Homo sapiens: one gene and its partners. The protein of the gene in region 2 purifies or fractionates together with the protein of the main gene of each other region. This does not show direct contact. Each region holds a gene or a part of one and is shown on either strand. Other genes may lie near its edges.

The links. Proteins that work in one complex are often made in the same cells at the same time.
Region 1: the proteins of RAI14 (region 2) and FMNL2 purify together in Homo sapiens (affinity purification with western blotting, with the first as the bait; one study listed by BioGRID). This does not show direct contact.
Region 3: the proteins of RAI14 (region 2) and MAP3K3 purify together in Homo sapiens (tandem affinity purification; one large-scale study listed by IntAct). This does not show direct contact.
Region 4: the proteins of RAI14 (region 2) and CCDC61 purify together in Homo sapiens (tandem affinity purification; one study listed by IntAct). This does not show direct contact.

What each region holds. Positions count from the first base shown.
Region 1 is NC_000002.12:152,628,674-152,632,173, forward strand, and holds part of FMNL2 (formin-like protein 2), read left to right. Parts: intron 1-982; coding exon 983-1,051; intron 1,052-1,151; coding exon 1,152-1,232; intron 1,233-3,334; coding exon 3,335-3,464; intron 3,465-3,500. UniProt on the Homo sapiens protein: Plays a role in the regulation of cell morphology and cytoskeletal organization. Required in the cortical actin filament dynamics.
Region 2 is NC_000005.10:34,827,328-34,830,219, reverse strand, and holds part of RAI14 (ankycorbin), read right to left. Parts: intron 489-2,892; coding exon 423-488; intron 1-422. UniProt on the Homo sapiens protein: Plays a role in actin regulation at the ectoplasmic specialization, a type of cell junction specific to testis. Important for establishment of sperm polarity and normal spermatid adhesion.
Region 3 is NC_000017.11:63,635,917-63,639,416, reverse strand, and holds part of MAP3K3 (mitogen-activated protein kinase kinase kinase 3), read right to left. Parts: intron 1-3,500. UniProt on the Homo sapiens protein: Component of a protein kinase signal transduction cascade. Mediates activation of the NF-kappa-B, AP1 and DDIT3 transcriptional regulators.
Region 4 is NC_000019.10:46,001,967-46,005,466, forward strand, and holds part of CCDC61 (centrosomal protein CCDC61), read left to right. Parts: intron 1-1,041; 5' UTR 1,042-1,052; coding exon 1,053-1,200; intron 1,201-1,452; coding exon 1,453-1,535; intron 1,536-3,500. UniProt on the Homo sapiens protein: Microtubule-binding centrosomal protein required for centriole cohesion, independently of the centrosome-associated protein/CEP250 and rootletin/CROCC linker.

The DNA.
Region 1 (3,500 bases), on a different chromosome or scaffold from region 2:
CAACCATCTTTTCCACATTATGTATGCAAAGTAAATTTGAAAAATGGGGAATGTTCATATTCCATATTGCCATTCTTCCGAAAGAATGCCATTTTTTGTGTCTACAGATGTTCTCTAGATTTCAAAAGGACAGGGGACAAAGAAACTTGGTTCTTTTCTCAAACTTGGTTCCTCTCTGAAGATACTAGTCTTCTGGCAGTGTTGGCAAGACTGAAAATAAGACTTTCATTTCTAAAAATGTTGCCTCATCTTTAGTGAGCAGACTTACAAGCTTTTGCTGAAAGCTTTATATTTACCATAAGAGTTTTCTTTCTTGGAAGTTTGTTATAATAAACTGTGGTGATATAGACATAATAGCCAACCATCTCTCATTCCCTTGTGTTAATCTGGTGGAGATTTATGAATATCATAAACTTCAGTTCTCTCCCAATTCTGTTTCTAAATAGACTTTGTTACTGATTATAGTAGTCAGTTCTTTCCCAATTCTGTTTCTAGATAAATTTGTTGGTTTCTGCTTATAGTAGTATGTCTGTTGAAAACATGTTCTGAGAACTTCTGGAGGGTGTTATATTCCCCTCCCTTTTTTTTCATTTTTGATGCCTCCTTCATTGATTTAAAAATATTAATTGTATGACATGATTAGAGGTGGTAGGCAGGAAATTGAGTTCTACCAGAAGCAGCTGTGGACTCTTAACTCTGAGTCTTAGTGGTTGTAGATTGGTTACAGATTTTGTGATAAGCAAGTTCCTATGTTACTTGCTATTGTGAACAGTTTCAGTAAAGATCGTGCATGTAACAATATTACCTGAGACCTAGCAAGACAATTAAATTTGTTATACTTAGAAAAAGTAGACTCTCACCATGAAGCCTGTATGCTCTAAATGCAGGCCTGTTTTCTTCTGTCTTAATATTTACTTGCCAATTAGTTTCCCATTTTTAACATGTCTTTTTTCCCCTTTTTCTTTCTTTGATTGGAATCTAGCAACTACATGCGATTATAGCAGCATCTGTCTCTATAAAGTCGTCCCAAAAACTCAAGAAAATTCTGGAGGCAAGTGCAGTTTTTCTTGTAGGTATGAAGGACTACTTCAGCTGCGTTCAGTGCCTGATGTGCTGTACTGATGGGCTTCTGTTTTCACCTTCTTTTGCAGATCATCTTAGCCCTTGGAAACTACATGAATAGCAGTAAAAGAGGAGCAGTTTATGGATTTAAACTTCAGAGTTTAGATCTGGTGAGTGGACTAAAAGAAATTTGAGAGCTGTTTGAAGGACAGATGGCTGGCAGAGATGAAGTTAGGGTGGTGGAGGATGTTTTGATGAATATTTTCTGCTATGGGAGGATCAACTGGTACTAATTTTCTGGAACACCATTTGACAGAGAGCACATAGAACCTATAATTACTCATACCCTTTGACTCAGTATTTCCATTTCTAGGAATTTTTTCTCAAGTGTCTGAATTTTGAATCCTGTATTTTATTTATAATTGCAAATTAACAATCTAAAGGTCTAACTGTGGGAATGATTAAATGTGCTGTAACACTAGTTAATACAGTGAACTATTATTCTTCCACCGTTAGCATACTGATGAAGAGTGTCCCAAGAAAGATTTGTGTTTAGAAAAGAAAGCAGGGTATGCTTTGCATGTACAGTTGAATCTCAGCTAAGTAAACTATGTGGGGAGAAAGACTGAATGGAAATAGGTTAAAATATTAGCAGAGGTTGGATGGAATCAGGAAATTTTTTCAAACTGCTTTTTGTAAGTACTTTTCTATATTTTCTTAAATTTTTGTTGTTGTTGTTGCATGCAGGGTGCTCTAATTTTCAGAGTCACCTAACTAATGTGAATAAGACTAGAGAAAATCCTCCGTGGACTCCCTCCAGACTGTGCAGGCCTAACGTGATTGTCACATGAGAAGGCTGGGCAGTGGGTTGAGTCCCCCGACCAGGGAGCTAGTTATTTAATATGGAGTGTCTAGTCAGTCACAGTTCTGGCCTCCAGCAGATCATGATCAGTTAAGCATGTCTGTTTCAGGTCTTCACAGGCTAGGAAATAAGGGAGGGCCTAAGCTAAATGTAAAAACTGGAGCATAGGAGCCCTGCTGTGTAGGAGGCACCTGCATGCACCTGCTGGCTGTACATCCCCATTTCTCCTCTGGCTTTTTACTTTGAAGAGCACTAAAATTAGAGCCGTCCTGCTTTTAAGGCAAGGAAGGTGGGATAGCAGATGCAGGGCTGGGAGAGTTCATGTAATCAGTGTCCCCCTTATCCATGGGGGCTGTGATCCAAGACCCCCAGTGGATGCCTGAAACCTCAGATAGTACTGAATCCTATATATACACTGTTTTTTTTCTAGAGATGCATATCTGTTATAAAGTTGAATTTATAAATTAGGCACAGTGAGAGATTCACAATAACTAAAAAATAAAATAGGCCAGGCCTGGTGGCTCACACCTGTAATCCCAGCACTTTGGGAGGCTGAGGCGGGAGGATCACCTGAGGTCAGGAGTTTGAGAGCAGCCTGGCCAACATGGCGAAACCCTGTCTCTACTAAAAATAGGAAAATTAGCTGGGCTAATTTTTGGGTCACAGGCACCTGTAATCCCAGCTACTCGGGAGGCTGAGGCAGGAGAATCGCTTGAACGCAGGAGGTGGAGTTTGTAGTGAGCCAAGATTGTGCCACTGCACTCCACCCTGGGCGACAGAACGAGACTCCATCTCAAAAAAAAAAAAAAAAAAAAAAATAGAGCAGTTAAATAAAACACGTTACTTGAACACAAACACTGCAATAGGCGGCAGTTAACCTGATAACCCAGATGGCTACTAAGTGATTAATGGCAGGTAATGATTACAGCGTGGATCCACTTGACAAAGGGGTGATTCTCGGTCTAGGGTGGATGGGAATGGCACGTGCGAGGTTTTATCATGCTGCTCAGAGTGGTGCGCAATTCAAATCTGATGAATTGTTTATTTCTGGAATTTTCCACTTAGTATTTTTGGATACCTGAAACCTGTGGGTTTCCTGAAACCATGGGAAGTAAACCTGTGGGTAAATAGGAACTACTGTAGAGGAAAGCTGCGAATCATTCTTAGGTGCTTAGAGTCATCCCTATAGTTAAGCATGTGCCCTGGTTGGAAAGTCCTTGAGCCAGTTAAGCATCAATGGACTGGTTCACTAAGGAACAAATGGAATCCTGACCCTCCTCTGGGAATGCTCCAGCCTGTTGGGCGACTGTTACTCAGTTAATGACTCTGGGTGGGAAATCGTCACCTGAGGGGTAAGTGTCTTGTTACCCTTTACTCTTGTACCTAACCCACGTTCCCTTTTGTTTTCAGCTCTTAGATACAAAGTCAACAGACAGAAAGCAAACACTGTTGCACTATATATCCAATGTGGTGAAAGAAAAATATCACCAAGTGTCCCTGTTTTATAATGAGCTTCATTATGTGGAAAAAGCTGCTGCAGGTACTTGATTTCAGCTATTACCGTTCGTCTTGGGTA
Region 2 (2,892 bases):
TTGAGCTCAGGAGTTTGAGACCAGCCTGGGCAACATGGCAAAGCCCCATCTCTACAAAAATACAAAAATTTGCCAGGTACGGTGGTGGGTACCTGTAATCCCACCTACTTGGGAGGCTAAGGTGGGAGGATCACTTGAGCCCGTGGGTCGAGGCTGCAGTGAGGCGAGATTATGCCATTACACTCCAGCCTGCATGACAGAGTGAGGCCCTGCTTTAAAAGATGGGGCTGTTCCTGGTAAACAGGGCACAAGGCTCCTGACACAGAATCCAAAGCAATGCAAAAGGCATATTCAGGCTTTCCAGTGAAAAGGATTCTCCTCTAATTCTTGTTCATTCTCCTAGTTAAATGATGGGAGTTCTGTCAACATCTGCTGCCGTATTTCTTTAGGATGTCCAGATACTTCAAGGGGCATAACCATACCTGCACAGCATACAGAAGATGCATTCTGTAAACTGATATGACCTCCTGGTGTTGTTTCTTGCATTCCTAGAAAGGGAATATTTCACATTATTAATGAGCTTAAGAGATCTTTAAAGAACAAAAACAAAAAACTATGAGAAAGCTGCAGCCAAATGCTACCCAAGTGGTCCCCTCCACTTTATGCTAGCACTGGAAGCTTCTAAAATTGTTGTGGCCTTACTGGCTTGTGTATTTCTGAATACTTGTCAATCATCTTAGGGAAAAAAGTCTTGGTATGTCAACTCTAGAAAAAACTGTATAAAAAGGAGTTATTATCACCCCACATTTGGTTTTAAAAATATATGCTCTTTGGGCGGCTGAGGTGGGTGGATCACTTGAGGTCAGGAGTTTGAGACCAGCCTGGACAACATGGTGAAACCCCGTCTCTACTAAAAATACAAAAATTAGCCAGGCGTAGTAGTCAGTACCTGTAATCCCAGCTACTCAGGAGGCTGAGGCAAGAGAATCGCTTGAACCTAGGAGGCAGAGGTTGTAGTGAGCCGAGATCACGCCACTGCACTCCAGCGTGGGTGACAGAGCAAAACTCTGTCTCAAAATATATATATATATGTGTGTGTGTATGTGTGTGTGTGTGTATGTGTGTCTATATATGTGTGTATATATGTATATATGTGTGTGTATATATGTACATATACTTATGCAAATACAGCTACATTAAATGTAAATACTGCAAGGAAATATATCAAATGTAAAAAGTGATTATCTCAGAGTTATTGAATTATGGAAAATTTTTATTTATAGGAACTTGTTAGAGTTTTCTTTATTTTTCAACTTTTCTACAATGACCAAATATGTACTAATTTAATTTTTAAAGCCTATTATTTTTAAGGGAATTATTGATTACCCACTATATGGCCAGCATTGTATAATCCTTGGGGAGCTCAATTATTTAGCTATCAGTGTACTAAGAAGGCAAAGAGGGTGGTGGCCCCAATCTCCAGTGGTTCCTCAATACAGCCGCTGATGCTTCTATTTCTCCTTGTTGAGCTATTACTCCAGTTCCTCTCAGTGGCTGTTTCAAGGGTCTTATCTCTGAAACTCTTGTTCTAAGAACCTGTCCTCCTAATTCATCATGAAAATTGAGACCATCATATATGGATTACTTCAAAAATGTACAAAAGTCCATAATACCCATTCTTCCTTCCCCCCATCAGTGTCAGAGTATGAGGTATCTTTCCTGTTATTAAGGGACATTTTAAAACCCGTCCTTTAAGTTCACATCATAAGAAGGCACATTTGGCATTTCTCTGTGTTGTTCCCTCCCCACCTTTCAGCAACCTCTACTCAATTATTTATGATTTTATCTTCTGATCTGGCTTCCTTTCTATCACTGCCTCTGTCATCATTCGCTTGGCTTTGATATCTGTGTGAATGATCCATCTAACACCTGGACCTCTCAGTTCCTCAACTTCAGCTTTAATAACATGCTCCTCTTCAGTTCAGCAACTCCTGTCATGGTTGTAGCCCTGCCTCTATCATTACCACCTCTGAAATCTCAACTGAAAGCATCCCACACCCTAACCACCACTTCCCATCTTTCCAGCAAGCTTGCTTCAGGCTTCCCCCAACCCCTACTGCGACTGGTTAGCCCCACCAGATACCTATCTACTTACTTACTTCTCTAGCAGCCAGTCTACTGCGGTCCAGATTCTACCCTCCTCCCCACTCCACTGGAATGGTTCTCACCAAGGTTCCCAAAAGCCAGCTAGTGCCATATGTCAGTCCTTGCTAAGTAACAACATATTCTTACTCAGGCCTTCAAGACTCAGCACAAGTGTAACTCCCGTAGGAACCTTTTCATGACTCAGCAAGATTGGGTAGACACATTTCCTTTGTATGCCCACGGTATGCTGGGCATCTCTTTGCTGATAACTTATATAGAGTATAAACTCCTTGAGGGCAGGGACTGAGTCTTACTCATTTTATATCATCAGCCCCATGTATAATACTGATGTAAGAGCTCAACAAACACATGTTGCGTAATTATAAGAATTACTGTATAAACCAATAGCACTTTATCTACAAGTCTGTAATACCATTTTATCAGGAGAAGAATGACCTGCAGAACACAGTAAAGAGCAGCTTCTCCTAAGTATCCACCATTTCTAGAGCTGTTTCCTCCAAAGCTAGCATTGAACTTTGTGGCCAGCCAGAGTAAGGACTGCAGAAACCTGAATTCACTACAGTTAGGTCTATTCCGAAGAAATCATCAAATCCATGTTCTGTTTGTATATGGAAGCTAGAGACAGTCCAGGACAGACTAACCCTGGACTTTAGGTAGAAAACGGAATGTACCCATGCCAACTCAAACCTTAACAGATATTGTGGTAAGCTAAATAATGGCTCTTGAAAGATGTCCACATCCTAATCCCCAGAACCTGTGAATGTTAAACTTTATATGGCAAAAGGC
Region 3 (3,500 bases), on a different chromosome or scaffold from region 2:
CTCACACTGTTTGTTCCCCACAGGGACCCCCCTTTAAAGCCAGATCAAAGCTCACCTTGTTTCCTGATACAAGCCATGTTTGCTTCTTCCCCTAGGCCTTTAATCATTCTGTTTCCTGACCTGGAGTGCCACCCTTCCTCCGTTCTACCTAACTGTTTATACTTCCTTCACAGCCTAGTTCAAGTGCCCTTCCACCTGAAATGACTCCATAGCTCCTCTGGCCCAGGCTCATCTTTCATTTTCCTGGCCTTCTATAGCACTTACTCTCTGTACCACACAGTGAGGCATAGTCATATCATACTTTCTTTTTTTCATGTAGTCCTCACTTCCCAGTAAGACTGCATGATTCCTGGGGTACAGGGAATATGACATACCTTTCTTTTTTCTTTTTTTTCTGAGATGGAGTCTTGCTCTGTCGCCCAGGCTGGAGTGCAGTGATCTCGGCTCACTACAACCTCCGCCTCCCAAGTACAAGCGATTCTCCCACCTCAGCCTCCCAAGTAGCTGGGATTACAAGCACCTATCATCATGCCCAGCTAATTTTTGTATTTTTGTACAGACAGGGTTTCACCACGTTGGCCAGGCCAGGTGATCCGCCTGCCTCGGCCTCCCAAAGTGTTGGGGTTACAGGCATGAGCCACCACTCCTGACCGACATACATTTCTTTTGTGTGTCTGAGAAGCGTGACCATAGGCACATGTTAAACTGAATGGAGGTGTCAGCTACTGAGAAAAAAGTTCTAGTACAGAAATTCAGGTCTAAGCAGCTTCATGTCCCCTCCCCACCACAGGCAATCCGGTGAGAGCAGTAGTGACAGCCACGCTCAGGAGAGAGACAGTGCGGGCTGTCGGGTTGAGCTACAGATTCAGGGACTCAGCAGGAGCAACAGGAATAACTGACAATAACACTAAAGCAGAAATGACCTTCTCAAAGTCTGGACTCAACAGCTGAACATGTAGCCCAAAAAGCTTTCAAGAATCCAGAAAAATCAGGATTTATTAACCAAAGGTTTATGAACTAACTTGACCTGAAAAAGGCCTCAGTTACCCATCATTCTTCTTATCCTCGCTCTGATTCTGTACTGATTTCTCTCCCTGCATTTGCTACATACCTTTGATGCCTCCCCACATTTCTGGAATTGCAGTCCTTATTTTGCCAAAGAGAGTAAGTGAATGAAAGGAAAAAAAAATACAACAAAAATTAAAATTTTATTTTTAAGCATGACTCTGGAAAGTTGTAGGAGATCAGTGGAAGAGACGATTATAAAGCAATCTTCTTACAAAATATAATGCCAGGCTTGTGTGTTGTTTTATATCTTATTTTCAAACTGGCCAGCCCATCTTATCAACAACCCTTGAAAGAGAAGGGAGGTCCTGAAGAGCCAGGTCTTTCACACTGAAAGCAAAAGACAGTCTGCTCAATCACTGACCCTGCTGGGGGAACAGATCCTGGAATTCTCTTCCTCTAGAAATGATAGCCAAGGCCCTGCCCTGCTTGTGCCTATCATGAAGAAAGCAGCTTTTCTGTTCTGAAGCACCCACTCATGAACATCTGGAGGGTTAGATCCAGAGCCCAGACTCTGTTCAAGTATCTACCTACCATTTTGATAAGATTCAAGGGAAACAGGAATCCATGGAAATAAGGATTCCATTTCTTCCTCCACTGGGATTTTCAGAAATTAGGCTAGCTTCAGAAATTTGCAAAGATCATCAGATAAACAGTAATGATAATCCCATAAAGAGAGAAAAACCTTAATCCTTTCAGTTCCACAACACTATGGACAGTTGTAGTTAGAAGCTTTCCCCAAAGCTCACACCTGCAGTGCCAGAACATAAGAAGTGACATAACCACTGCAACTTCACATTTGTACATTTGTTTTACAATGTACAAAATATTTCACATTCTGTCTATGATCTTACAACAATCTTAAGAGGTAGACACAGTGAGTATTAAGTCTATATTTCAGATGGAAAAACTCACTTCAGAAAGGTTATATGACTTATACATGGTAAAATTACGGTGACTAGGAATCAGAAGGCTTGGATTTACTTCCTGCCTCTACTCAATACCTTTGTGTAAAAGCTGTGTAAACCTTATACACATGCTTATAGCATTGATGTTAACTGTTGTTGAAAGCACTCTATAAATTATAAAATCCTACATTAATAGATGAGTAACAACTCTATGACTCCTAGGCCAGTACTCTTTTTTTTTTTTTTTTTTTGGTTGGTCTCAGTTTTTAATAGTGGCAGGGCCTCACACACTTGCACACGTGCGCATGCACGCACACACACTCTAAGGCTTCAGACCTTGTTGAAAGCTGCAACATCGACACTCTACACACGCTCTCAAACTTGGTAATCTCCTCTTCCAGAAAGTTTGTCCCCACCTTGTCGTCCCCCACCACACACTGAATCTGCAGCTTCCGGATACCGTAGCCCATGGGCACCAGCTTGGAGGCCCCCCTAGACCAGCCCGTCCAGCTGGATGAAGCGCATACAGGCCTCCAATTGGGCTATATTGGTCTCATTGTCCCAAGGCTTGATGTCCAGCGGGATGGAGGACTTGACCACCAACGCAGTCTTCTTGGCCTTCTTCTCCACATACCACCTCAGCCACTTCTCCCACAGCCGGGCTGCCTCCTTGTCTTCCTCCTCATTGTCGCTGACAAACAGGTCAATGTCATTGTCCTTGTCACCCTCTGCTAGTGTGGCTGCCTTCTTGGCTGGGGGCTCCACTTGGCACATGGGAGACACATGCTGGATCTGCGTGGCTGTGTCCCTGTGGCCAGGCAAGCTCTTCTCCAGCATGTTCAGCCACAGGCCAGCACTCTTTTCACTATACTAAGTTGTCAGACCCACAGAGAACTAACACCCATTGATAACTCACTGTGAGTTAATGACTGCTAAAGGGACACTGCACATCATGGCCTGCAAAACTATCCATAGGACCCAGCCACACGTAGGATGTGCCACACATCTAAGAATATTCAGTCAGCTCTAACCACGCTGTAGGCTTCCAGAGACCCAATATACAAAAGGGAGAATACAGCAAATGCTCCTAGTGTACAGTATTCTCTGTACTCCTAGAATACAGAGAATACAGAATCTACCTCCTAGAAAATTGTTAATAGCTCACTGCCCATGTACTTCCATAGCTGCCTATTTGTTCTCAAATCCATTCTCTTTTTCAATTACTTACCAAGCTTGTTTACTTAGGGAAAAGGATGTCTCAAGTCTTGCTAAGCAGAGATATTAAATTAGATTTTTCAGTTCTTCCAGGCCTCGGCACCCAAACAATCCTGTTAATGAACCCACAGCTCCTCTGGCTTTCCTTGCTGGGCCAAGCTTGAGCTCCATGAAGCTGTGCCAGTCTCGACTCTGCCTTGTAGCCAGCACTGCCATTCTCATAGTGAAAGGCTGTTTGCCTCTGCCAGCCCCATTCCACCCTTGAATAAACAACCTTTCCAGCTAGCCAAAATGCTTAGCTTCTTTCAACTG
Region 4 (3,500 bases), on a different chromosome or scaffold from region 2:
TGGAGTCTCCCCCTGTCGCCAGGCTGGAGTGCAGTGGCACCATCTCAGCTCACTGCAACCTCTGCCTCCTGGCTTCAAGCGATTCTCCTGCCTCAGCCTCCGGAGTAGCTGGGATTACAGGCACGGGGCACCACACCTGGCTAATTTTTTTGTATTTTTAGTAGAGATGGGGTTTCACCATTGTTGGCCAGGCTGGTCTGGAACTCCTGACCTCATGATCCACCTGCCTCGCCTCCCAAAGTGCTGGGATTACAGGCATGAGCCACCGCACCTGGCCTGCTCTGACCCCCTTTTAAAAGCTTGGCTCATCCTACTCCAATACCCCCGTCCCTCTTTCCAGCTTGACTTTTCTCCACAAATGTTTGCTGAATGAATGAATGAATAATAATAAATATATAATGAGTATAAGACTTAATAAATTAATACTAATATTAATCATGATTCTTTTTTTGGCCATCATGTATTTCTTTTCTTTCTTTTTTTTTTTTAACTGAGTCAGGGTCTCACTCTGTCACCCAGACTGGAGTGCAGTGGCAAGATCACAGCTCACTGCAAGCTCTGCCTCCAGCCTCCCGAGTAGCTGGGACCACAGGCATGCACCACCACACCTGGCAATTTTTTTGTATTTTTAGTAGAGGTGGGGTTTCACCACATTGCCCAGGCTGGTCTTGAACTCTTGAGCTCAAGTGATCCTCCTGCCTCAGCCTCCCAAAGTGCTGGGATAACAGTTGTCAGCCACCGCGCCCGGCTTGGCAATCATGAATTTCTAGTATCCAGCACATATTGGACACAGCCTCCAGGTCACAGTACCAAGTACTTTTATACATATTGCCCAATGTAATCCTCACAACAAGTCCACGAGGTTGGTGCCATTATTATACCCATTTTCCAGATGAGGAAACTAAGGCACAGAGAGGTGAATTCGCTTTCCCAGGATGCCACAGCTGGTAAATGATGGAGCCAGGATATGAGGCCTGGCCTTCCAACTCATGAGCCTGGGCTCTGAGCTCCTCTAGGTTTCTCTCTCATCTCCTTCTCCAGCAACCTTGGCCATGGACCAGCCGGCTGGCCTGCAGGTGGACTACGTCTTCCGGGGTGTGGAGCATGCCGTGCGGGTGATGGTTTCTGGGCAGGTGCTGGAGCTGGAGGTGGAGGACCGGATGACGGCTGACCAGTGGCGGGGCGAGTTCGATGCTGGCTGTGAGTGTGCCTGCCTGGGGTGGGCTCACCTTTCCTCTCCTGGGATCAGCTTCTCCCAGAATATCAGGCCACCCTGAATCCTGCCCACCTGCCTCTTCTTTGTCACCAGAAACTCTCCAGTGTGGGGAGGGGTGTAGGTCTTGTTGCTCAAGCCAGAGACACTGGAGTCGGGTAGAATTGCAGAGCTTAGGTGCATTGCCCTGGGGCTGGGCAAGCGGTCAGACCTCAGGAGAGACTTTTCTCCCCACCCAGTCATTGAAGATTTGACTCACAAGACAGGGAACTTCAAACAGTTCAACATCTTCTGTCATATGCTGGAGTCAGCCCTCACTCAGGTAGGGCCCGGGTTGGCGGGTTGGGGTGGGAGGGGGGTTCTGTCTTCCAGGTTCCAGGGGGGTTGATGCCCATCTGATGTATGTAAGACCCTCTACCTTCTCTTTCATTGTGGGAAGAGGGCGATCATTTTCTTCTTTTGCCAAGTGTAAATGCTTCATTTTGAACTTAATGATAGTTATTCTCATGTAGAAAATTTAGGTCACAGAGAAATATAAAGAAGAAAGTAAAAATCACTCCAGCCCTAATACTCGCTTCTGTTAATATTTTGGTGAAAATCACTCCAGTCCTTTCTCCATGTCTCTGTTTGTTTCCAAATACGTGTGTGTGTGTGTGTGTGTGTGTGTGTGTGTGTGTGTGTGTATGCATTTGCAGATCTGTAATTATATATAGTTTATATAATTTCCAAGGTATTCTGCAACCTGCTTTTTTTGGTTTGTTTGTTTATTTTTTTTTTGAGATGGAGTCTCGCTCTGTCGCCCAGGCTGGAGTGCAGTGGCACCATCTCAGCTCACTGCAACCTCCGCCTCCCAGGTTCAAGCGATTCTCCTGCCTCAGCCTCCTGAGTAGCTGGGATTACAGGCGCACGCCACCATGCCCGGCTAATTTTTTGTATTTTTAGTAGAGACGGGGTTTCATCATGTTGACTAGGCTGGTGTGGAGCTCCGGACATCAGGTGATCCACCCGCCTCTGCCTCCCAGAGTGCTGGGATTACAGACGTGAACCACTGCGCCCAGCCTGCAACTTGCTTTTAAAGGATTCAGCAATATCTCATAAAAATGTAGTCACATCAGTGAATATAGCCATTCATTCATTTCATTTGCTGAGCATTGACAGTGTGTCAGTCATTGTGGGGGACACTGGCGATACAGCAGTGAACAACAGACAAAACCCCTGTCCTCATGAGGCTGACATTTTGGAGAGACAGACAAATGAAAAAATACATAATGTCAGGTATTTAAAAGTTTTTGTTTGTTTGTTTGAGATGGAATCTCACTCTGTCTCCCAGGCTGGAGTGCAGTGGCGTGATCTCAACTCACTGCAATCTCTGCCTCCTGGGTTCAAGCAATTCTCCTGCCTCAGCCTCCCGAGTAGCTGGGACTACAGGCGTGTGCCGCCACACCCGGCTAATTTTTGTATTTTTAGTAGAGATGGGGTTTCACTGTATTGGCCAGGCTGGTCTTGAATACCTGATCTCAAGTAATCCTCCTGCCTTGGCTTCCCAAAGTGTTGCAATTACAAGCGTGAGCCACCGTGCCCAGCCTAAAAGTAATAATCAGGGGGAAGAAGCAGGTTAGAACTTAGAGTGACAGGGATGGGTGGTATTTAGATATCTTTTTTTTTTTTTTTTTTTTTTTTTTGAGACAAGAGTTTTGCTCGGTTGCCCAGGCTTAGTGGCACAGTCTCAGCTCACTGCAACCTCCGCGTCTCGGGTTCAAGTGATTCTCATGCCTCAGCCTCCCAAGTAGCTGGGACTACAGGCCTGCCCACCATGCCCAGCTAATTTTTGTATTTATTTATTTATTTTTTTTGAGATACTATCTGTGTAGCCCAGGCTGGAGTGCAGTGGCATGATATTGGCTCACTGCAACCTCCGCCTCCCGATTTCAAGCAATTCTCCTATTTCAGCCTCCCGAGTAGCTGGAATTACAGGCATGCGCCATCATGCCCGGCTAATTTTGTATTTTTAGTAGAGACGGGGTTTTGCCATCTTGGCCAGGCTGGTCTTGAATTCCTGGCCTCAAGTGATCCACCTGCCTCGGCCTCCCAAAGTGCTGGGATTACAGGTGTGAGCCACCGCGCCTGGCCTGGACAAGCGATAGTTTCTTAAAGGTTAGTTGCAATGTGGAATCTGCATCCTCATCAGTGAACTTTTTGTATTGTTACATTAAATTCCACTGACTTATCTTGCATTTTGTATGGATATTTTTTTACCTGTGGATGATCTTGTAACATCATGCATTGG